Homo sapiens: one gene and its partners. The protein of the gene in region 2 interacts with the protein of the main gene of each other region in a pairwise test. Each region holds a gene or a part of one and is shown on either strand. Other genes may lie near its edges.

What was found.
Region 1: the proteins of LZTS2 (region 2) and GEM interact in binary tests that used the Homo sapiens proteins (3 or more experiments, as listed by UniProt).
Region 3: the proteins of LZTS2 (region 2) and SLU7 interact in binary tests that used the Homo sapiens proteins (3 or more experiments, as listed by UniProt).
Region 4: the proteins of LZTS2 (region 2) and FAM124B interact in binary tests that used the Homo sapiens proteins (3 or more experiments, as listed by UniProt).
Region 5: the proteins of LZTS2 (region 2) and GNL3L interact in binary tests that used the Homo sapiens proteins (3 or more experiments, as listed by UniProt).
Region 6: the proteins of LZTS2 (region 2) and ZMYND19 interact in binary tests that used the Homo sapiens proteins (3 or more experiments, as listed by UniProt).
Region 7: the proteins of LZTS2 (region 2) and ZNF426 interact in binary tests that used the Homo sapiens proteins (3 or more experiments, as listed by UniProt).

The regions. Positions count from the first base shown.
Region 1 is NC_000008.11:94,255,820-94,259,319, reverse strand, and holds part of GEM (GTP-binding protein GEM), read left to right. Parts: intron 1-3,500. UniProt on the Homo sapiens protein: Could be a regulatory protein, possibly participating in receptor-mediated signal transduction at the plasma membrane. Has guanine nucleotide-binding activity but undetectable intrinsic GTPase activity.
Region 2 is NC_000010.11:101,002,808-101,005,570, reverse strand, and holds part of LZTS2 (leucine zipper putative tumor suppressor 2), read right to left. Parts: coding exon 2,625-2,763; intron 2,065-2,624; coding exon 1,405-2,064; coding exon of another isoform or gene 1,303-1,404; exon of another isoform or gene 1,095-1,302; intron 114-1,094; coding exon 1-113. UniProt on the Homo sapiens protein: Negative regulator of katanin-mediated microtubule severing and release from the centrosome. Required for central spindle formation and the completion of cytokinesis.
Region 3 is NC_000005.10:160,409,082-160,412,581, reverse strand, and holds part of SLU7 (pre-mRNA-splicing factor SLU7), read left to right. Parts: intron 1-62; coding exon 63-131; intron 132-3,500. UniProt on the Homo sapiens protein: Required for pre-mRNA splicing as component of the spliceosome. Participates in the second catalytic step of pre-mRNA splicing, when the free hydroxyl group of exon I attacks the 3'-splice site to generate spliced mRNA and the excised lariat intron.
Region 4 is NC_000002.12:224,381,653-224,385,107, reverse strand, and holds part of FAM124B (protein FAM124B), read left to right. Parts: intron 1-3,455.
Region 5 is NC_000023.11:54,547,219-54,550,718, reverse strand, and holds part of GNL3L (guanine nucleotide-binding protein-like 3-like protein), read right to left. Parts: intron 2,491-3,500; coding exon 2,346-2,490; intron 1-2,345.
Region 6 is NC_000009.12:137,581,581-137,584,546, forward strand, and holds the end of ZMYND19 (zinc finger MYND domain-containing protein 19), read right to left. Parts: intron 1,584-2,966; coding exon 1,403-1,583; intron 1,107-1,402; coding exon 963-1,106; 3' UTR 501-962; downstream 1-500. UniProt on the Homo sapiens protein: May be involved as a regulatory molecule in GPR24/MCH-R1 signaling.
Region 7 is NC_000019.10:9,528,646-9,532,145, forward strand, and holds part of ZNF426 (zinc finger protein 426), read right to left. Parts: intron 2,423-3,500; coding exon 2,340-2,422; intron 992-2,339; coding exon 1-991. UniProt on the Homo sapiens protein: May be involved in transcriptional regulation.

The DNA of each region.
Region 1 (3,500 bases), on a different chromosome or scaffold from region 2:
TGTCGCGACTCACAACTGAATCACAGAGTAGGGAGGTGTCTTAGCGATGACTCAGTTCTCCCCTGCATTGATGCATATTAATGTTATTCCTCACTACCCACAGCCCATCTCATCTGGAGGTTTTATTCTTCTTGATTGTCTCAGTGTCAAGGAGTTCACTGCCTCATGAGGCAGCTCAGGAACTGGGCTATAAATAATGACTCATTGTTGTAACATTGATTTCTCTCCTCACTCCTGGAATCTCAGAAGAGTAAAGGGAGAAATAGGGCCAGTGTTGTACAATTGATTCCCTCTTTCTTTGTAAAGGCTGCCAGGTGACTTGCTAGGAAAGAGAAACGGGAGGAAGGGGCTAGCATTTAGAGTGAATGTTTGCAACGGGAGAGGCACTTTGTTAGGTGCCTTATATTTGCTGCTGTTTATTTTGGTCTTCACAAAGTTCTTGTACTCATGAGTAAACTAAGTCTCAGGGAGATCAAAAGCCTTATCCAGAATCACCCAATAAGGAAGGTGGATTTAGAATTTGGGATTTTATCATCTTAGTTCAGTTCATTTTACCATTTCTGGGGAACTTGCTATGTGCCAGGCACTGTGTTAAATACTTCCCACACATATTTTTGATAATACTTGAATCAATCTGGCATTAATATACCTATTTGACAGGTGAAGAAATGGAGGCTTACAAAGTCAAGTGACTTTCCCAGGGTGAAAAAACTAGTACATGGTATGACCAGGATTCAAATCTAGTTGTGATTGAACCCAAATCCTGTGTCTTTTCATAGCCCCCTGCAGCCCCAGGATTTAGCTTCCAAATACTAAGTATGACAGCACATTGGGCATCAGCCACACACCTGGCTCTGGCCTAAGCTCTGGGATACAAGGCGATGGATGAGGTATACCATGCCCCCTAGTAATGAGCTAAGTGTTAGTTGCTATGTTGCAGAGCAGGGTCACATTAACTAATATTTTAAGCAGTAACGATACAGTGCTTTGGGCGTTGACATAAGGAAGAGATGGACTGGGAGTTGTTTTTTGTTTTTAAGAGGGAAGAATTGAAAAAAGTTAGTGGATAGTAGACTTTCAAAAATGTTTGTCCATTAGAATGGAGTTGTATGTATCCAGAGGGTAATATTCCCATAGGCATAAAATGTTAAGAAGACTGACTCATACCTGGAATTTGGAAAGGTAGCCTTCCCAGATATTTTGGGAACTTCTTTGTTGAGAGAGAGAGAGAGAGATGCCCAATATGACAGCACATTGGGCATCAGGCATATGGCTGATCCTGGGGCCGCAGGGGACCATGAAAAGACACAGGATTTGGGTTCAATCATGAGAGAAAGGGAATCCTTTCCCTAGCTTCTTACACAGAGAATCTGTAGGACCTGCTGGAATCACTAGTTGGTTTTGTTTCCCAAGAGGAAGGTTTTCTAAGGCACACCCCTACATTTTTTTTTTTTTAAATCAGCATTCACTGTAAGAAAAAAAATCGACATAATATTCTCATAATGATTTCTCCTAATAAAGATGGATATTGTTACAGTTACACTACAGTAATCTTATGACTCTCTGTATACACTGAATGCCATTCATTCATTCATTCATTCCTAAGAAGTTACTGAATGTATAGCACAGAGCTTGGTGAGGCACTCTGGGGACATGCAAAGAGTCATGGGGCTTCTTCTGCGGAGATGCTCACAGTATGCAATGGAGCATAATGTATACACCAAGTAGAAATTGAGATAGGATGTGGTAAATGTCTTGAAAGTGGTGTAAGGAGAGTGCTGTGGGAATTCCGAGGCGAAAAGATTACCTCTGACTGTGGATTTAAGAGCTTCATGGTTGGCCCGGCATGGTGGCTCATGCCTGTAATCCCAACACTTTGGGAGGCCGAGGCAGGTGGATCACCTGAGGTCAGGAGTCCAAGACCAGCCTGGCCAACATGGTAAAACCCCATCTCTACTAAAAATACAAAAAATTAGCCGGGCGTGGTGGCATGTGCCTGTAATCCCAGCTACTGAGGAGGCTGAGGCAGGCGAGTCATTTGAATCTGGGAGGTGGAGATTGCAGTGAGTCGAGATCTCACCATTGCACTCCAGCCTGGGCAACAAAAGTGAAACTCCATCTCAAAAATGAAATAAAATAAAATAAAAATAAAAATAAAATAAAATAAATAAAATAAATAAAAGCTTCATGGAAGAGATGGTCTCTGAACTGGACCCTAGGGACAACTAGGATTTGGAAGCCCTGAGCTAGGTGGGAAGGCACACCACACATATATAGCAAAGTACGGAAGTCTCATTGGGCTTGGGGTTTGATGATGGGTTTAGACGCAGCTCTGACACTGACTTGGCTGGGTGCTCTTGGACAAGCCACTTAGCCTCCTCAAGCTGCCTCATTAGTGTAATTGGGGTAATACCTCCTTCATAGGGTGTTACGAGGATTAAAGGATATAACATGTTGAGCATGGAGCATGGTGCCTGGCACATAGTAAGTACGAAATGAGCATTAGTTAGAGCTGATTCTGAATCTACCATTTCCTTTTGATGTGCTTATCTTTCAAAAGTGGTGGTTTCCTTGCTTGTGGCCCCTGTCCACTTTGGTCACTGTTGGCTGGGGCCCGTGGAGCTGTCCAGAGGGGACCGGGGCCAGTAGAGTAGAGGACAGTATTTGTAGAGCAGGCATTTCTTCTGAGGTTCCTTGGGATCCCCTGAGCTATGAAAGCTGGAAGCAGTTGAAAGTTTTCAGGGAGAGGGATGCTGGAGTCTCAGAACTTTAGAGGTGCTGCAGGAGTCAGTTCTGGCAGTGAGAGAACACTTGGGCGGGTTTCACACACACACAGCACTTGAGCCAGTCTTGGGCAGAAGGGGCCTCACTTCCAAGCACAAGGAGTGTTAACGAAAAAATTATTAACATGGTAAGGAAGACTTTATTCAGGGCCATTGCAGTAGGCATCCCAATAGTGGGGAGAGATGGGGCTCAATTCCAAGTACAAGAAGAACAAGTGGGCACTTAGCCAAGGAGCAGGTGGGAGGGGGTCAGAGGATAGAAAATTACTAAGAGGAGACGTCAAGGTTAGGGGGATTCTTGCTGAAGTCAGGCCAAGGAGCAGGTGGGAGGGGGTCAGAGGATGGAAAATTACTAAGAGGAGACGTCAAGGTTAGGGGGATTCTTGCTGAAGTCAGGCCAAGGACTTAGACTATCAGAGGTGGTGGGTGAGGAATTTGATCAGATATTGAAGGTGGGGGATTCTCACTAAACTGACTTAGCAGGATTCTTGCTAAAGCTGAATTCTGCCAGGATGGAAACGGAAGCCCAGGGAGAGGCCGGGTAGAGAAGAGGATTCAGAGGAGCCTGACTAAAGTTTGGTCAGGGAGAGAGTCTGTCAGGGGGATCAAATGAGGAAAGACAAACTGGTCTAGAGAAAGTGGCTACTGACCACCATCACCCCTTATAGAACGTCTGTCTGTCCCCATCAGCATGAGTTCTTTTGCTACATAGAGTGT
Region 2 (2,763 bases):
ACCTGCAGCTGCAGCAGCTGTTGGGCCCGCTGTGCCCGCTGTGCCTGGGCCGCACAGTCCTCTCGCAGGGCCTCACGCTCTCGCTGCCAGTGCCGCTGCCGCTCCTCGTATGCCTGCAGGCGAGAAGAGAGACCTGGCTCCTGGGCAGTTTTCCCAACTCCCCACTCAGTGTCTGCTCTGGCAGCCCACTTCCGAGGGCTCAGGAAGGGTGGATTCCATTAAACAACAATAGTAATTGCAACAACAATACTAACTGCTTTTATGATGATCATAGAAACAAACACAAGAGCAAGCAGACCGGGCTCGGTGGCTCACGCGAGGTGGGTGGATCACTTAAGCTCCGGAGTTCGAGACCAGCCTAGGCAACACAGCAAAACCCTGCCTCTCCAAAGACCAAAAATTAGCTTGGTGTGGTGGCATGCGCCTGTAGTCTCAGCTACTTGGGAGGCTGGGGTGAGAGGACTGCTTGAGCCCAGGGGGTTGAGGCTACAGGGAGCTGAAATCACGCCACTGCTCTCTAGCCTGGGTGACAGAATGAGACCTTGTCTCAAAAAATAAAAAAAGCAAGCACTTGGCCGGGTGCAGTGGCTCACGCCTGTAATCCCAGCACTTTGGGAGGCCGAGGCAGGTGAATCACTTGAGGCCAGGGGTTCGCGACCAGCTTGGCCAACATGGTGGAAACCCTGTCTCTACTAAAAATAAAAAATAATAAAAAATTTTAAAAAAGGCAAGCATTTATATAGCACTTCCTAGGTACCAGGCATTAGTCTAATCACTTTACACCTTTTGCCTTATTTAATCCTCATAATAATCCTACGAAGCTAGAAATATCCCTATATAGATGAAGAAATAAAGGCTGAGTAAAGTTAAGCAACTTGCTCAAGCCCAAAAACTAGTATTTGGCAGTGGGAGGTTTGAATCCATGCACTCTGACTCCTTTCCACCCCACAAGTTTTGTTTTTTGTTTTGAGATAGAGTCTTGCTCTGTCGCCCAGGCTGGAGTGCAATGGTGGAATGTCAGTCCATTGTAACCTCCTCCTCCTGGGCTCCAGTGATCCGCCCACCTCAGCCTCCCAAGTAGCTGGGACTACAGGTACATGCCACCACACTTAGCTAATTTATTTTTAGTAGAAATGGGGTTTCCCCATGTTACCCAGGTTGGTCTCAAACTCCCGAGCTCAAGCAATCCGCCCACCTCGGCCTCCCAAAGTGCTGGGATTACAGATGTGAGCCACCACACCTGGCTACTCCACACATTAAACCAGACAACTGGTGGGGAGGGCAGGGGGGTCACAACTACAACTACCCAACCCCCGTTCCCTGCCAAAATGGAAATGCCGCTTGCATCCCAGGGCCTTGGGATGTCCTGCCATGCCCCTTCCCCATCATTGCCTCTGACCACACCTGGCACATGGTAGCCTCATTCTCGTCCAGACTGTCCCGCAGCTGCTGAAGCTCTGCCTCCCGGTCTCGGAGCTTTCCTTCCAGGACACAGTGCAGCAGGGCCTCATCCGAAGGAGGTGGAGGCGGGGGTGGTGGTGAGCGCTCCCCACAGGAGCTGCTGTCAGGGGAGGCCCGAGTACCACTGCCCAAAAGCCCCCCAGCCACACGGCCCCCTAGGGAGCCTGTGCTCTTGCTGGAGGAGGACCGGCCACTGTCTGAGTGGGAGGGCCCAGTAGGGACCCCTCGGGCTGGCCCAGGCAGTGCCCCTCGCCCAGAGCCATGGGAAGGCAGGTGCCCGCCTGGGGAGCTGGTGGTTGGCTCGGCACCTCCGGTGCTGTAGGTGGGCAGGCTGGACAGTGAGTTTCGGCCAGAGTCGGATAGCGTCCCTGATGGGCAGCCACTGGCCCAGCCACTAAATGCCAGGGGTTTGTCAGCAGCTGAAGAGGAGGAGGAAGAGGAGGAGGAGGAGGCAGGGCCCCCAAACAGCTGCGTCAGGCTGCCCTGGCTCCCAGACAGCCCGGTGGCCCGAGGACCCATGAAGCTAGGCAGGGACGGAGCCCCTCGAGGTTTGGGCAGCACTGGCTTGAAGGCTGTTGGGCGGATCAGGATCTTCTCCATGTTCTGAAATGAGGTGCCATGTGACACTGGAGATGAGCTGCCCAATCTTGCAGAGCCCTTATGACACTCCCTGCCCTCCCGTCTTGGGTCCCCAGTGCCCATATATTCATAACAATTGCGGCCACTGGTGGAGGTGGCCACCAGTGTCAGCTTTGTGTCAAGCAATTTGAAAAGTTTATCTCCATTATCTAAATATGATCACTATCCCCATATTACAGATGAGGAAATGGAGGCTCAGCAAGGTTAAAGGCCTTGCCCAAAGTCAAACGTATAACTGGTGCAGAATAACCAGAACGTAAGCAACTAGCACTTACTGCGTACATGCTACGTGCTAGGCACTATGCTATACATTATTTGACCTTCATGTCAGTTCTAGAAACTGAGGCTCAGGTTAAGTGACTTCCCTGAGGTCACACATCCAGAATGAGAGAGAGCTGGGATTAGGACCCAGGTCTGGTGAATCTGGAGCCCACACTCTTTCCTCTATATAAGCTTCTAAATTCCAGTTTCCCAAGCGAGGACTCCCGTTCTACCCAGGCCCACAAGGAAGAGCCGGTCCTCACCTTCTCCAGCTTTCCAGAGACAGGGATGAGCTTTGGTGGTGGGCCGCGGAGGTGGGCATTGTGTGCCCGCTGCTCTCGGGCATCCTCAACATCACTGCTTGGGCTGGGGGGTGACTCTGTCCGGAAGTCCTCATTGATG
Region 3 (3,500 bases), on a different chromosome or scaffold from region 2:
GTTGTAAGTAAAATTTAAATGTTTACTTTTTCTTTCTTTCTTTCTTTTTTTTTTTTTTAAAGGCAAAACGAACATTGAAAGCCCAGAAACTCCAAGAGGAATTAGCCTCAGGAAAATTAGTGGAACAGGCTGTAAGTAATGAAAATGATCAATAAAAAGGTTTTATTTCTTTTAAACAAAGAAATGAAAATTGAAACAAGAATTCATTTTATAGCTCTTCAGTTAGGAAGAGAGAAATGCTATTGGGGGAAAAATAAAACTGATACTTTGTATACAGTTCATAGTAATATAAATTGATGCAGTCAGTTTGGGAACAATATTGCCACTATTTATATTTAGACACACACAAACATTTACTTTTTCAAGTTAAATTATTAAAGCTATCCATCCTAAAGAATTTTCTAGAGTTTAGAAAAATCATGATGCATAAAGATAGTACAGCATTTTTCACAATAGTAAAGAAATTGGAATAGCTTAAATGTCCAGGAACAGGGAATTGGTTAAGTGCATCTGCATGGTGTAATGCTGTGTAGTTCTTAAAATGGCATTTCTCAAGACTTCATTAACAACACTGGTTAACACTTGTATTTGAATAATACATGAAAAGATAGTATAATATTATCACACAGAAAAAAAGACCAGAACACTAGTTTTTATTTAATGTAGAATTTATGAATTTTTCTTTCTATTTCTTTAGTATTTTCTGCATTTCCCACAATGAATATGTATTAGTTATATAACTGGGCAAAACATTTTTTATATGAATGAAAGGTCTATTGCAGCCAGTTTTTTTTTCTTTTTTAAAAATCCTTGTCAATAGAGTAAATATATTATGCATATTAGAGTTGTCAAGTTTCTTTTTAACAAATCTAGGCACAAATAAATAGTAAACATTTATAGTTTTTTAGTTTAAATTTCTAAAAGGGACTCTAAACCATGTATAAGTAACAAAGCAAACAGAACTTGAAATAATTACCAAGTAAGCAGTTACCGAGTTACTAAGGTAACCTACCAGGCAAGTTAACATTGTAAGTTACCAGATAGGTGTTTAAAATCCATCTCTGGCCGAGCACAATGGCTCACACCTGTAATCCCAGCACTTTGGGAGGCCGAGGCAGGTGGATCATCTGAGGTCAGGAGTTCGAGACTAGCCTGGCTAACATGGTGAAACCTCATCTTTACTAAAAATACAAAAATTAGCTGGGTGTGGTGGCGAGCACCTGTAGTCCCAGCTACTCGGGAGAATCGCTTGAACCCAGGAGGCAGAGGTTGCAGTGAGCCGAGATCACGTCACTGTGCTCTAGCTTGGATGACAGAGCGAGACTCTATCTCAATCAATCAGTCAATCAGTCAATCAATAACAAAATCCATCTCTGCTCCATGAGACATACATGCTCTTAGAAAAGTGAATTTGCCGGCCGGGCGCGGTGGCTGACGCCTATAATCCGAGCACTTTGGGAGGCCAAGGCGGGTGGATCCCAAGGTCAGGAGATCGAGACCATCCTGGCTAACACGGTGAAACCCCGTCTCTACTAAAAAATACAAAAAATTAGCCAGTCGCGGTGGCGGGCGCCTGTAGTCCCAGCTACTCGGGAGGCTGAGGCAGGAGAATGGGTGAACCCAGGAGGCAGAGCTTGCAGTGAGCCAAGATCATGCCGCTGCACTCCAGCCTGGGCGACAGAGTGAGACTCCGTCTCAAAAAAAAAAAAAAGTGAATTTGCCTCTCTGAGCTGCAGTTTAGTATGTCTGAAATAGAAATGATAACACCTACCCCCAGGAAGCTTATATACATATCACATAGTAAACACTGGGTAATTAGTAGCTATTATTGTTGTGATTATTTTTATTTATTACTAACTTTGGGAAAAGAAAAAGGGCCTGTTTCTTTTGTTCTAATGTATTCTCTGTTGTTTGTTGTAAACGTAATGTAATTTATTTCCCCAGTAAGGATACTTAATGTATGTAAGGGGCTAATGATTTTTGCCCACTTGGATGCTTGGATTATTTTTTTTTTATATACTTTAAGTTTTAGGGTACATGTGCACAACGTGCAGGTTTGTTACGTATGTATACATGTGCCATGTTGGTGTGCTGCACCCATGAACTCGTCATTTAGCATTAGGTATATCTCCTAATGCTATCTCTCCCCGCTCCCAGGATGCTTGGATATTAAGATGAACCACATACAGTAGATTTAGAGACTTAGCTGTCACTATAGAAATGTATGTAAATGTCTTTGGTGAACTAGCAAATAGTGGGAACTCAAAAAAATTATTTTTTACAAAATATTTATATTTCTAATTTTGAAAGTAACACATATTAAGTGGAAAAAAATTAGAACATAATATAAAAAAGAAAATATCCCTGTGTTAATTGTGAACATTTTGAAGTAGGCCTTTCCAGGTCTCTCTTGTCCACATATACCTGTTCATGTGTGCTAGAATACAAAATGTTTCTTACATGAATCCATCTTTATATATTCATTTATTACCTTCTTTTTTAATTTAACAACATAGAGTACAGTGGGAACGTGTTTTCTGTCTATATTTATAGACCTATAGCATCATTTATTTTTGTATGAATTCACATGGCTCAAAAATTAAAACAATTTAAGAAGATGCACAGCGAAGTCTCTCCACCCCTGTTTCTATCCACCCTAACACTAAACTTCCCCTCGCCCCAACTCTTTTGTGTATGTGTGTGGCTCCTTTCAGACTGTCTTGAATAAATACAAATACAAATATATACCCTTATCCTATCTGTCTCTCCCCTCCCCTTTTTTTAATCAAAAAAGTTAGGAAACGATACATACTTTTCTGCCCCTTGGATAGAATCACTTTTAATGGCCGTTCAGTGTTCCATGGAGTGCAATACATTATATAACCAGTGATCTATTAATTTGATTTTTTCCCAGTGTTTTGAAAAAACATTGCACATATACAACACTGCACATCACATTCTTATACATCTTTATATAATTGACATGATACTAGGATAACCTTCTAGAAGTGTATTTCAGTGAGTTTGTATTTCTAAAATTTTTATGACATATCACTTAGCCATCATTCAGAAAAGCCATGCAGATTTATGCTTCCATCTATATAGTATATATACATACACGTGTTTCTGCATCTCCTCACTAATGCTATAATGTATTCTCTTTTTTTTTAAGTATTTTTAATCTTTGAAGCCTTTATGAAGGGACATGATGAAATACCACGTTAGTGTAGGCATTCTGTGGAGTTAGAAAGTATTCTGACCAATTGCTAGCGAAGAAAAGTGTATCCTTGTGACAAGGAGTTTGGCCTCTCCTTAAATTACAATACTGTGTCACTTGTAGATTTTTTTCATTGCCCAAACTTCACTTTGGCTGTGAAGACATGAACCCAGTAATATTTTCTTTTTGGACTTACTAGGAAACTAGTAACGTTTAATGAATACAGTATGTCTGAAGACTAACACATTTAGAAATTAATATTTATTGGGTACTTTGGACATCT
Region 4 (3,455 bases), on a different chromosome or scaffold from region 2:
GGGTAGAGAAAATAAGGGGAGGTTTGTAGAAAAACATAACTACACAAATTTTATATACAGGTTTGACAGTGAAGGGGAGGACAGAGAAACCTGGAGGGAAAGAGAGGGTGGAAAGAATGTGTTTTTCAAGACACGAGACTTGAACAAGTTTAATTGCTGTTGGAAAGGAATAGGCAGAGAGAGAGAAAGAGAAGGAGAGGGAGAGAGATTAAACATCCAAGATAAGAAAGTGGGAAAAATGAATAATTGATAGGTCAGGGTCACCAAGAAGGCGGGAGGTGATGGGAGTCTTGGCCCAGGGACCGGTCACTTTCACCTAGAGAGAATGGTGAAGCTGCAGGTAAGTTTCGCGGTAGCAGTGAGAGTGTTGCTAACTGGTGACAGCATCTGCTTCCTTGATAATCTGGATGGTGAGACCACCTGATGAGAGAGAGTGGGGGCGATGGTGCTGCTGAAGATTTCAGGACAGTTTTGAAGGTTTGAACAGCTGCTGGGTGAATGGAGAGAGGTGACTAAGGAAGCAGGCAGACTGGCGGGTAGCCTGGGAGAGGCCGGAAACCACGCCATCATGGGGCACCCATTTCACAGACCGATGTGTTTCTGTGGCATCCTGAACACATGTTCAGAAAATGTGGGCAGGTAGATGGATGAAAGGTGGGGAGATTTTGTGGGAGTCTGTGACAGAATGGGAATAGTGAGGGGAGTTGGAGGTATTGGTGAAGAAATGGTTGAAGTGATAGTCTTTGGACTCAAATTGACTCTGAAAGGCAGTGTGGATGGGAGGGGCTGACAGGGAGAAGCTGGGGATTGGGAGTGTTGATGTTGAAGAGCAGATGTGATGGGGAATTGAGTGCCGGAGCCCATGGCCTCAGAATGCCTGGCTTAAATAGAATCTTTCAAAGATGGGACATTTGCAGGTGGAGAAGGCCCAGTGGAGGGGCTGTGGGACTGGGTGACAGAGGGGAGTGGAGGGGTGAGCTGGGCTGGCCCAGGAGGGCGCTTCCTGGCTGCCCTGAGATGTCTCGGCACTGGTTGGGGCTTCAGGACCAATTTCATTATGATCTGACATTGATTTAGATGGCAAGGGGCGATTACTCAGGCTTCTCTCTGTGTTCACAGTTGCTAGAGAATGAAATACAAGCCCCAGAGTCAAAGTTATTGATTTCTTTCTCCAGATTGGATAATCTAATATCAACCCTGAACCATTTCTCAGTATGGAAATATCCATGCCAGTTTCCATTTCTAGAAGAAAAAGATGTCATTGGGTCAATTAAAAAGGTACATTATGATACAAGGGTACAGTGTCAAATGATTCTCCAAGAGGCAATGATGGCAGTTGGCCCTTTGAAGGACTAAGGGAGTTTGTTCTCCAGGGGAAGGGAAACCCCAGCTGACATTTCGGAGATAGTATTTTTTCCTCCTGATTTTGAAAGGATAAGCAAATAGTCTTCATTGGAAAGTGAGAATTTGGGGGTGATTTGAGGTTGGGATAGGGAGAAGGCTTTACTTTTTATTTTATACATTTGTACAATGAAATTATTTTTATGGTGATAAATTACTACTTTTATAGTAAGACTTTTTTAAAAAAACAAACAGATGAAAAGGAAAGAAAGGAAAGGAAGGGCAGGAGGAAGGAAGGAGAGAAGGAAGAAAGGAGGGGAGGGAGGGCGGAGCTGTGGAATTAGAGCAAAGGGAAATGTAGAGAGAGATAGCAAAATGAAATTAGGCAAAGAATTTTTCAGAAATATGGAGGAGGAGGTCGGGTGTATGTGATAAGAAACAGACTCACAACGACCGCAAGTTAACTGACTACTCGAAGCCTAGCTTTTCTGGGTCCATGGCAGTAGTTCCGAAACTTCGCTGCACATTAGAATTACTGGGGGAGATTTATCAGCTCTGACAGCCAGGTGTACTCTGACCTGATGAAATCAGGAGGTCATGGGCTGGGAGCAGGCATCATTGTTTTTTAATGATCCCAGGATGTTCCCTTGTGCAGCAAAGTTTGGGAACAGAAATTTCTCCTATGGGTTTGCATAAGGACAGGTCCTTCGGTGCAGTGGGCATCCCTTCAACAGTGTCGCCCCTAGAGAGAGTATCTGATGCTGGTGGAAGCTCTCTTCAACACACTCTGGGGCACTGCACTCAGCTGTGGTTCAGTGCAAGCACATCTGCGATAGGGGTTTCAGGTGTGTGTGGCTCTAATGAACTGGCTTGGCTCAGGGGTAGAATTTAGATATTCTAGAATAGTGGTTTTCAAGCTGGTTCTGTGAAGCCCTGGGGAACTAGAGAGGGGGTCCCGTAGGCAGAGGCTACCCTCTGTACGTCAACCAGGGCTGCGCTAATTAGATTGCTTCATATTTTGGGCTTCCAGGTAAGAAATTGTTTGGAAAAAAACTTCTTAAGATAGAGAGATGGCTCACTCCTGTCATCCAGCATTTTGGGAGGCCAAGGTGGATGGATCACCTTAGGTTGGGAGTTTGAGACCAGCCTGACCAATATGGAGAAACCTCATCTCTACTAAAAATACAAAATTAGCTGGGCGTGGTGGTGCATGCCTGTAACCCTAGCTACTAGGGAGGCTGAGGCAGGAGAATCACTTGAACCTGGCAGGTGGAGGTTGCAGTGAGCTGAGATTGCGCCATTGCACTCCAGATTGGGCAACAAGAGCAAAACTCCATCTCAAAAAAAAAAAAAAAAAAAAAGACAGGGAATCATTGATCTAGAATAGGGCTTGGTCAACTGTGGCCTGAGAACTAAAAATAGTTTTCTATTTTTATATGGTTGGAAAAAAATTCATGACACATAAAAAATATGAGATTCAAATTTCAGTGTTCATACATAGAGTTTTACTGAACACAGCCATTCATTTATATATTGTCTATGGCTGCTCTGCAGCAGAGTTGGATAGTTGGGATAAAGACCATATGGCCGGCAAACCCTCAGATATTTACTGTCTGGCTCCTTGCCGAAAATATTTGCCAACTTCTATTCTAAAAGAATCAGTGGAAGTCCTTGTTTTTTTGTGTGTTTGTTTTTGCAGCTTGGTAATATGCACCTCACCATTTCTATCAGAAAATTGAGATGTACTCTGCGTCATCTATACAAACAAATATGCTCTGTGTGAGTGTGTGTGTGTGTGTATGAGAGAGAGAATTTACTGATTTCTAGACCTGTTTTCTCACTGTCCTCATTTCTGCCTTCTTGCCTTGTAAGATAAATATGTATCATTATTTTTTCTCCCTTGAAATAGACCTTATTTTTTACAGCAGTGGTAGGTTCACAGCAGAATTAAGCAGAAAGAACAGAGAGTTCCCATATACAACCTTCCCCCCGAAAAGAGCCTCCTTTCCTGTCAACATCCTTTATCAGAGTGGTACATGTGTTACAACTGATCAACCTACAACGACACATCACCATCACCCAAAGCCCATAGGGTACATTAGGGTTCATTCTTG
Region 5 (3,500 bases), on a different chromosome or scaffold from region 2:
CCCACTCACAATCAGCCAGGCAGAGGTCCTCAATGCAAGGCCTCAGTGGCACAATCCAACAGAAGGTGGACATCGAGAAATGTCTAAGAAACAGAGAACAACCTGTCTGGGTGTATCATTCCATGGATGGGGATGGAGGTCATCTCCAGATGCCAGTCTCTCTGTGCAGCTGTCTACCTGAGGTGTGTATTTTGCTGTTTGTGCATCTGTCAGCCATTCTCAGCCTGTGGATGTCTTTGTGTTTCCCCTCACTGGGCCTCATTCTCACCGTTCTCTTTCTGTATGTGCTCAATTTACATGTGTGTACTATTGTCTCAAGCATATGCTTGTTTCAACCCGAGAAAGCTGATTGCCTAAAGAAAAAAAAGGTATATGTCTAAGTATACCTCTCGTGCATGAAGCCTCTGCACACCTCTCTCCCCCCTCCCTCTCTCTAGGTCATTCTCATTCTAAATTATCACCATGCATGGAAGTCTCTACACATCTCTCTCTCTCTCTCTCTCTCTCTCTCTCGGTCATTCCCATTCTCAGTATCACCACTTTTTCCTTTTCTTGTATCTCTCCCACTCAGTCTCTTTCTCTATCTTATCTTTGTTTCTCTCTGTGTCTCTGTATCTAAGCACCTCTTTCTCTGCCAATTTGTCTGTCTCTCATTCTGGCCATTGTTCTTTTCTCTCTGATTCTCTCCACCCCACCAATCCTGCCTCTATTTGTAATTCCCTCCATGCCAACTCCTGTCAGCCTCTGTCCATGCTCCTCATCTCTGTGGGCTGGTCACTTCATGGATGCCTCTCTGTATGTGTCTCACGGTGTCTCTTCTACTCTCTCCCTGTCTGCGCCTCCTTAACCTCCTCTCTGTATGTCTCTATTTCTCTCTGTACAGGTACACATACCTGCCTCATAGTGACATGTCTGGTATTTGTGTCCCTCTGTAACTCTAGGTATGTGATTATGTTCGAGGGTCAAAGTGTATGTGGGCACATGCGTGTCTTCTTTTTTTTGAGACGGAGTCTCGCTCTGTTGCCCAGGCTGGATCTCAACAGTGGCACGATCTCAACTCACTGTAACCTCAACTCACTGTAACCTCCACCTCCCAGATTTAAGCGATTCTCCTGCCTCGGCCTCCCGAGTACCTGGGATTACAAATGCCCGCCACCACACACATCTAATTTTTGTATTTTTAGTAGACATGGGGTTTCGCCATGTTGGCCATGCTGGTCTCAAACTCCTGACCTCAAGTGATCTGTGCGCCTCAGCCTCCCAAAGTGCTGGGGCTACAGGCATGAATGAGCTGCTACATCCAGCCCTCCTTGTGGTTCTATGCGCGTTGGGGGAGCAGCGTTGGGGTGGGTGTGTGTGGGAAGGGCTTGGTCTACATGCATTTTGACTGTGGTTCTGTCTCGCTAGATGTGCCTCCTCTGGATCTCTGGGTCTGTAGCGTGGGTCTGTGTATGTGTTTGTGGATCTGTATGTGTACTTAAGAGCTATGTGTATGTGTTCCTCTGTATCTACAGCCTTGTCCAGTCTGCTTCCATGTATGTCTCTCTCTGAATCTGTCTCTATCCCTGTAGTATGTTTTTCTCTCTCATTCTTTGAGAAAACATGTCTGCCTCTCTACATACATGGGTTATCTCTACCCTTCCTATGTCTCCCTCGGCAGATCTCTGTATGCATGTCTGTTTCTATGTCCCTTTTGGTGTTTCTGATTGTATCTCCCTCTTTACATGCCTCCATCATGTAAATCTGTCTCCTCTTTCCATTCCCCACCAATCCTGCCATCTGGCTTCCCAGTGCGTTCTCTGTGTCTTCTTCTGTATCTATCCTGGTATGCATACCTATACCTTCTCAGTGTCTAGCTCTCTCTCCAATGTCTTTCTCACGTGGCTTCACATTCTTTCTCTGGTGATCTATCTCTGCCTCTCTCAATTTCCCTACTCCATTCCCATCATCCCTCCCTCAGAAACTTGTGCTCCAGAAAGGCCCAGGTTTTGATCCTCAGCTCTGCCTTGTCTTGCACAGGGCTGGGCTCCAAAAGTCCCTTTGCCCTTCTCTGAGCCTCACTCAGAATTCTCATCCGTAAAAGGTAGACGGTCACCCCATCCTCCCATAGCTCTGATAGGATGAGATGGTACCAAGTCCAAGCCTGGCACCCTGTATTTGCTCCATGAATCTAATACTCAATACGCAGTGATGCCCACCCATCCAAGTTACAAATCACGAAACCCTTCTCCTGAACCACTCCTCTCTCCCCGCAAAAGACAATGAAGCTCCCAGGATCCTTTCCCCCAGCGAAGTGTCCGCTCAAGAAAGAAGCCTGAGCCCCATGACCACACAGCAGGTCTTACCCACAACACCCACACGAATGTGGGTGCGCACTTCACCAAGGCGGCAATAGTTCCCCAGAACCCTCATGAGGTTTTCAGCTCCAAAGCAGGCTTTGCTTTTCAGCAGTGACTCAGAGGCCTGATCTACTGGCACACTGCAACGATTCTGGAAAAAAAAATTGAATATCACAGAAGAGACATCAGGTGGCAGATGAGGTCTGAGCCCAGATTTCCAACTTTCAGGGCCTCCCTATGATCACTGAGCTCCTCAGCCTGAAACGGAAGGCTTCTCACACAGATCTTGAACACGTGTCATTTCCCCATTCCCCTCCACTGTCTTTGTGTCTCCAGTCTCCTCTGCCCCTGCGTCTGCTTCGACACATGTCACTTGCCTCCCTCGGCAGTGGCAGGATGGCATCCTGGCTCTAAATAGGCCAGGTTTGAGCTCCAGGTCTACTTCTCACAGGCCTATGTCCAGCAAAGCCTGCTTCCCTTCTCCAGGCCTCAGTGCCCTGTGTGCACAACAGGGATGCCCACCCTCCCTGCCTGCGCAGGGATGAGAGGGAGCCTGGCCCACAGCCTACCCTCCCTCAATTCCTCACACAGGACAAAGCCATCCCAACCTTTACTCCTGATGCCACTTCCTCTGCCCAGAATTCCCTCCCTCCTCTTCCCTTACTTTTTTTCTTTGAGACAGAGTCTTACTCTGTCACCCAGGCAGGAGTGTGGTGGCACAACCTTGGCTCACTGCAACTTCCACCTCCTGGGTTCAAACGATTCTCATGCCTCAACATCCCAAGTAGCTGGGACTACAGGCATGCACCACCACACCCGGCTAACTTTTGTATTTTTAGTAAAGACAGAGTTTCGCCATGTTGGTCAGGCTGGTCTCAAACTCCTGGCATCAAGCAATCTGCCCACCTTGGCCTCCCAAAGTGCTGGGATTACGGGCATGAGCCACCACGCCCAGCCACAGCATTGTTTCCAATATCACAAAATTGGAATTAGCCTATATATCCATCAATAAGAAACAGGTTAAAAAGCTGTAGCCTTAAAGTGGAATACAAATGAAATACAGCTGTTAGAAAAGGTGGCTTCTGGCCGGGTGCTGTGGCTCATTCCTGTAATCCAGCACTTTGGGAGGCCAAGGCAGGCGGATCACTTGAGGTCACGAGT
Region 6 (2,966 bases), on a different chromosome or scaffold from region 2:
CAAGATGCTGACCAGCCCCAGACACCTGGGGCTCCCCAAGGAGAGGGAGGGCTATCCTGGAAACCACAGCCCTGCAGACGGACGGAGAAGTGAGACCCTCACCTCACCCTGGCTGGCCAGCCCCCTCCACCATCTGCAGCAGGCCTGCTGAACATGCCCTGTGGATTCTTCTGGGCAGAAGCTCACTGCTGAGCTCCCAGCCACTTCATGCATAAATCAGGCAAGAACTAACCAATGTCAGGGGCGAGAGCATCCTACTCCCCATAAAACAGCGGGCAGCTGACTTAGCAACCCCACCACTCCTGCCGCAAGACAAGGACAGAGTCTCACTCATACTCCCTGCTGGACTCAGGAAGGTCTGAGCTCACCCGCTCCTCAGAAGGGCCCACCAGGAACAAGGGTCCTCCTGCCTCACCCACAAGGACTCGGCTCCACTCAAAATGACCTCACCCTAAGCAGCACAAGAGGGAGGCGGAGCAGAGAATGTCCGAGAGGCCAGATGATTCCACCCCTTTACTTTGCCTTTGTGGACACAACTCCCGTGCAGGCCGCGCTCCACGGGGCTCCCGGCGGCCCAGGGGAGAAGCTTCGACAACAGGACAGTTTTTAGTCACGTGGCCTGACCGTTTGCCATTTAAGGATTACAGCAAATGATTCTATTTGTAATTTCTACCCTTCCCATTGCCTCCCCCCCAAAAAAAACTGTACATGAGTTTACAAACATATTAACATATAAATAATGAGAACCGTCCTGGTGGGAGCCTCCTCCGTTGTCTCTGCTGGAGATGAACACTGAGGGGCGCTGTAACCACACAGACTGCCTGTGACATCGGGAGTCTCACGGCAGCTGTCCTGGGCCCGCAGCTGGCTTTTTTGGCACCTCCAGGTTCAACCACCAGTCTGTCTCTGCTGTGCCCAGGGTAGAGCCCGGGGGCTGTGAGTATGTGTGGCTCCCCTGCCCGTCATCGCTCTGGCTCAAGCTCATGCTGGAAGGGACGCTTCCTCTCCCGACAGTGCTTCTTGTGGGCAGGCCAGTCCTTCTGCTGGCACTGGGAGCCGCAGTACCGGGCCACCTGGCAGCGCCCACAGATGTTGAACTCCCGGAGCTGAAATACAGAACACCTGTGGCTTCACCATCATGCCTGGGACGCAGTGTGGGGCAAAGGCTGCGTCTTACGGACAATCTGACGGACCCAGCAAAACACCACGTACCAAGGCTGGAGGGCCTGGGCCCTGGTCAGGCCAGCACAAGGGCAAAGGGAGACCACTCTGGTGGAAAAGCCCAAGAGGTGCTAAGCGGTCTCTGGGGAATGGGACCCCGCGGTGGAGGGCAAGATCCCAAACCAAGGCTGGGCTACAGGGTAGAGGTGCCAGGGACGCGACCGCACTGCAGCACACCCACCTGCTTCTCAATCACTGTGCAGGGAGGGTAGTGGCACTCATAGTAGGTGCAAGAGTTCTCCTCCTCTTCCACTACATCCCCGTTGGCATTATAATACCGGGTCACATTTAGGACAGGAAACTGTTCTTCTATAGGGTCTGTAGGCAGCTGCTGAATTGCAAGCCAATACAAGCTTTGCTCCCTTAAAGAAAGAAGCAGACACTTGAGTGCACTCTGGCCAAACGGGGCCAGCACACAGCAGACGATGCAATGACTCCATAGAGTGCCATCCTGCCCAGGACACCCAGCCCGAGTTTGAGTCTCCTTTGGCCCATCCCTGCTGCATGTGCTTTTCACCACCTGACAGTAAATATTGTGTCTCATCTTCCCACTAACCCGTAAGCATGGCCTCATCTATCACCCTCTCCCCAGCACCTGGGACTGACAGGCACACAGTAGGCAGGAGACAGGGCCCAGGTCAGGCCCCTGTGCAAAGCGAGGCGGCCCCTCTCCTTGCCCTTGACCTGCAGAGGTGCCCATTACTGCCCCGTCGGTCCACTTCCCCTTCCATACCGGGAGCTGCCCTACGTCCGTCTAAAAACTCCTCCTGCTTGAGTAGGCCAGATGCCTACAACGGGAGAGTTCTACCAAGAACGGAGCCTCAAAGGCATGTGCACTGGCTGCTCAGAGGCAAGCGTGGGCAGCCCCAGCCCTGCTGCATCACGGAGTAAAGAAGCTGCATAAACCACCCCACCAACCCCGTTCTCCGAAGCCAGACCCTGAGGAGACTTGGTTAAAACGGGGAAGGATCAGGACATGGGAAGATGTTGGTGAGGTCCCACCAGACAGAGGCAAGTTTCAGACACTGCTGGCTTCTGAAGACAGAACAGGAAAACACCCCTTTGCCAAGAGGCCCCTTTTGTGGGGGCTGAGCTGACACAGTGCCAGGAAAGCAAAGCAATAGCCCAGGCCTGACAAAGACAGGGTGACCCCACCACAAAGAGCCGGACCACAGGGAGGCCACAGACTGGGATCCAGACGGACGCACAGCACCCAGCCAGTCAACAAAGACAGGGTGACCCCACCACAAAGAGCTGGATCACAGGAGGCCACAGACCAGGATCCAGACGGACACACAGCACCCAGCCAGACAGGATGTCAGGCCCACACTGGCCAGCTCTGACTTCTGCTCGGGGCCTGGGGTGCTGACCCAGCACAAGAGGCCCAACACCTGCTGGGTTCTAAAACCCCATGTTGGCAAACCAAAGATGGCTGAGCCTGATCAGTCCTGAGCCACCCCAGGCCCACCTCCTGTAGCAGGGGGTTGTGTAAGGCAGCAGCCCCAGCGCAACTCGTCCTGCTGTGCCCTCAGAGAATGGGCATCCTGCCGTGCCCACAGAGAATGGGCTGACCAGGAGCATCAGCCCAACACCCCCTTTCCAAACGGCTGTTCTTAACGGCAGTTATCTCCTCTCCTGATTATAAAGGGTGCTGAGAGGATTCAAGGTAACATTCAGTCACAGGCTGGCCGGACCCTGAGTCTTGTTGAGAACCGGCTGAAATGACCCGCACCATGGCAGGGACA
Region 7 (3,500 bases), on a different chromosome or scaffold from region 2:
TGTGAATTTTAAGGTGGGTGGAATAGTTAAAAGCCTTCCCACATTCCTTACAGGTGTATGGTTTCTGGGCACTGTGCGTTCGCATGTGATTATTAAGACATGAGGGATACCCAAATACTTTCCCACATATCTTACACTCACAGGCCTTCTCTTCAGTGTGAGTTCTCAAATGTCCACTAAGATTTGAGGAAACTGCAAAGGCTTTCCCACATTCAACACATACAAAAGGCTTCTCTCCAGTGTGAGTTCTTATATGTTGAATAAGGCGTGAGGATGTAAGGAAGGATTTCCCACATTCCTTACATTCATAGGGCTTGTCTCCACTGTGAGATCGTACATGCATACTAAGGCCCGAGTACTGAGTGAAGGCTTTCCCACATTCCTTACATACATAGGGTTTCTCTCCAGTGTGAGTTCTTCCATGTATCTGAAATGAGTTGGAATAATTGAAGGCTTTCCCACATTCCTTACATTCATATGGTTTCTCCCCAGTGTGGGTTCGCATGTGAATACTGAGGTAGGCTGGGTATCTATAGCCTTTTCCACATTCCTTACATTTGTAGGGCTTTTTTGCATTGAGGGTTTCTATAAGCACAGAAAGGCTTGTAGAGTCAATAAAACCTGGCCCATAATTCCTCCATTCGTAGAGTTTTTCTCCATTGTGAGTTCTCATATGTGCCTGAAGGTATGACTCATTAATGAAGGATTTTCCACAGTGACTACATTCAAATGACTTTTCTTGTGTGCTAGTTCTCTGGTATACAATATTTGGTGTCAGGCTGAAGATTTTTTCACTCTGATTAAACTCAGAAAGTTTCTCACCAGTAGAGGTTTTCTCACACAGGGTAAGGAAATCTTTTCCATACTGATTACAGTCATGAGTGTTCCCTGTACTTTGAGTTCTCACGTGCGTCTTAAGGCATGAGTGTTCACTGAAGACTTCTCCACATTGCTCACAGTCACAGAGTTCCCTTCCATTGTGTTTTCCTTCCTGTTGAAGGGATGATGATGATTTAAGGATTTTTCTCAAACATATTAACAGAACATACCCATCTGAAGCTAGAAACATTATAATGGTGATTATAATTGATGCCATTTTTATTACATGCATTCAGGTCCTTCCCTGTAGATTTATTTTAAGTGGTATGACTTAACTCTTATTCTAGAATGTTGTGCCATCTACTTTAATCTTGGCTAGGCATGGTGTCTCATGCCTGTAATCCCAGCACTTTGGGAGTCCGATGGGGGGCAGATCACCTGAGGTCAGGAGTTCAAGACCAGCATGGCCAACATGGTGAAACCCTGTCTCTACTAAAAATACAAAAATTAGCTGGGCTTGGTGGCACATGCCTGTAATCCCAGCTACTTGGGAGGCTGAGACACAAGAATCGCTTGAACCTGGGAGGCGGAGGTTGCAGTGACCCAAGATCACACCACTGCACTCTAGCCTGGGCAACAAAGCGAGACTCCGTCTCAAAATAATAATAATAATAATAATAACAGATTTCTGTAGAATTCAATGTCTAGATGGGTGCAGTAGCTCACATTTGTAATCCCAGCATTTTGGGAGGCAAAGGTGGGTGGATCATTTGAACCCAGGAATTAGAGACCAGCCTGGGCAACATGGCAAAACTCCATCTCTATAAAAAATATCAAAAAATTAGCTGGGCATGGTGGTGTGTTCCTGTAGTCCCAACCACATAGGAGGCTGAGGTGGGAGGATCACTTGAGCCAAGGGGTCAAGGCTTCAGTGAGCCATGTTTGTGCCACTGCAATCCAGCCTGGGTGACACAGCAAGACCTTGTCTCGACCAAAAAAAAAAAATTCATAGTCTAAGCCAGATGTGGTGGCTCATGCCTGTACTCCCAGCACTTTTGTAAACTGAGGCAGAGGATCACTTGAGCACAGGAGTTTGAGACTAGCCTGGGAAACACAGTAAGACCCTGTCTCCACAAAATTTTGAAGAATTAGCTGGGTGTGGTGGTGCATGCCTGTAGTCCCAGCTACCAAGGGAGGCTGAGGTGGGAGGATCGCCTGAGCCCAGGAGGTCAAGACTATACTGAGCCATGATTGCACCACTGCACTCCAGCCTGGGTGACAGAGCAGTATCTCGTTTCAAAAAAACACCAAAACAAAACTCAACGTCTAGTTACACTTGTGGGAATGTGTGAAAGCTCCAAAGAAACAAGTTTCACAATTGGAGCATCCCTAAATTCTTTGCTCCCTCTCATGTGTATGCAACTTCTCTCAAATATCTCTTATTTTTGCTGACTTCCCATAACAGAATTCCTGATTTTCTCTGAGGGTGGAAAATAAAAAATATCCTATGCAAATCTTACCAATTGTATCCCAATGGATGTCTGACCCCTCAAAAAGTCCTGCTGAAGTATAGACCACTGGGTTTCAAGTCGCATTTCCCATCCTGAAATAAAACAGACAAACAAATAAAAGGACTCAAGCTAGGCACAGTGGCTCATGCCTGTAATCCCAGCACTTTGGGAGGCTAAGGCAGGTGGATCACTTGAGGTCAGGAGTTTGAGACCAGCCTGGCCAACATGGCAAAACCCCACCTCTACTAAAAATTCAAAAGCTAGCTGGGTGTGGTGGTGAGCACCTGCAATCCCAGCTACTCACGGGGCTCAGGCTGGAGAATCTCTTGAATCCAGGAGGCAGAGGTTGTAAGGAGCTCAGATCACACCACTGCACTCCAGCCTTGGCAACAAACAGAGTGAACCACAACAAGAACAAATGAAAGGATTTGGAGAAAGAAATGCAAAGAGTTCAAAACAATATGGCTTATTTCTATTTGTTTCAAATTAAACATGGCAAGAAAAAGCAGAAAGACATTTGGGGATTTGGGCTATATCAAAAATTTGGTTTTGATGTAAATGATCCAAAGGGGGAAAAATTGGCCAAGACAAGGACATGGGGTAAAACTTTTCGATCGTTTATTACAAATTGATGCTATGAAAATTAAAACTGATAGTGAATAGAGAGAATCAGGGAATGAAAGTAGGAAATTTCTGAAAAAAGAGCGTATATCTAAACAATTAACTTGGCCGGGCACGGTGGCTCATGCCTTTAATCCCAGCACTTTGGGAGGCCGAGGCAGGCAGATCACGAGGTCAGGATATTGAGATTATCCTGGCTAACACGGTGAAACCCCGTCTCTACTAAAGATATAAAAAAATTAGCCAGGCATGGTGGCAGGCACCTGTAGTCCCAGCTACTTGGGAGGCTGAGGCAGGAGAACGGCATAAACCCGGGAGGTGGAGCTTGCAGTGAGCTGAGATTGCACCATTGCACTCCAGCCTGGGCGACAGAGCAAGACTCCATCTCAAAAAACAAAACAAACAAACAAAAGCCACAATTAACTTAAAGAAATGTTCTAAGACCCCAGGTGGATGCCTGAATCATGGCTAGTTCTGAACCCTGTACATACTATGATTCTTCGATCTGGTAACTGAGATGACCGCTACGTGACTCACAGGTGGTGTACA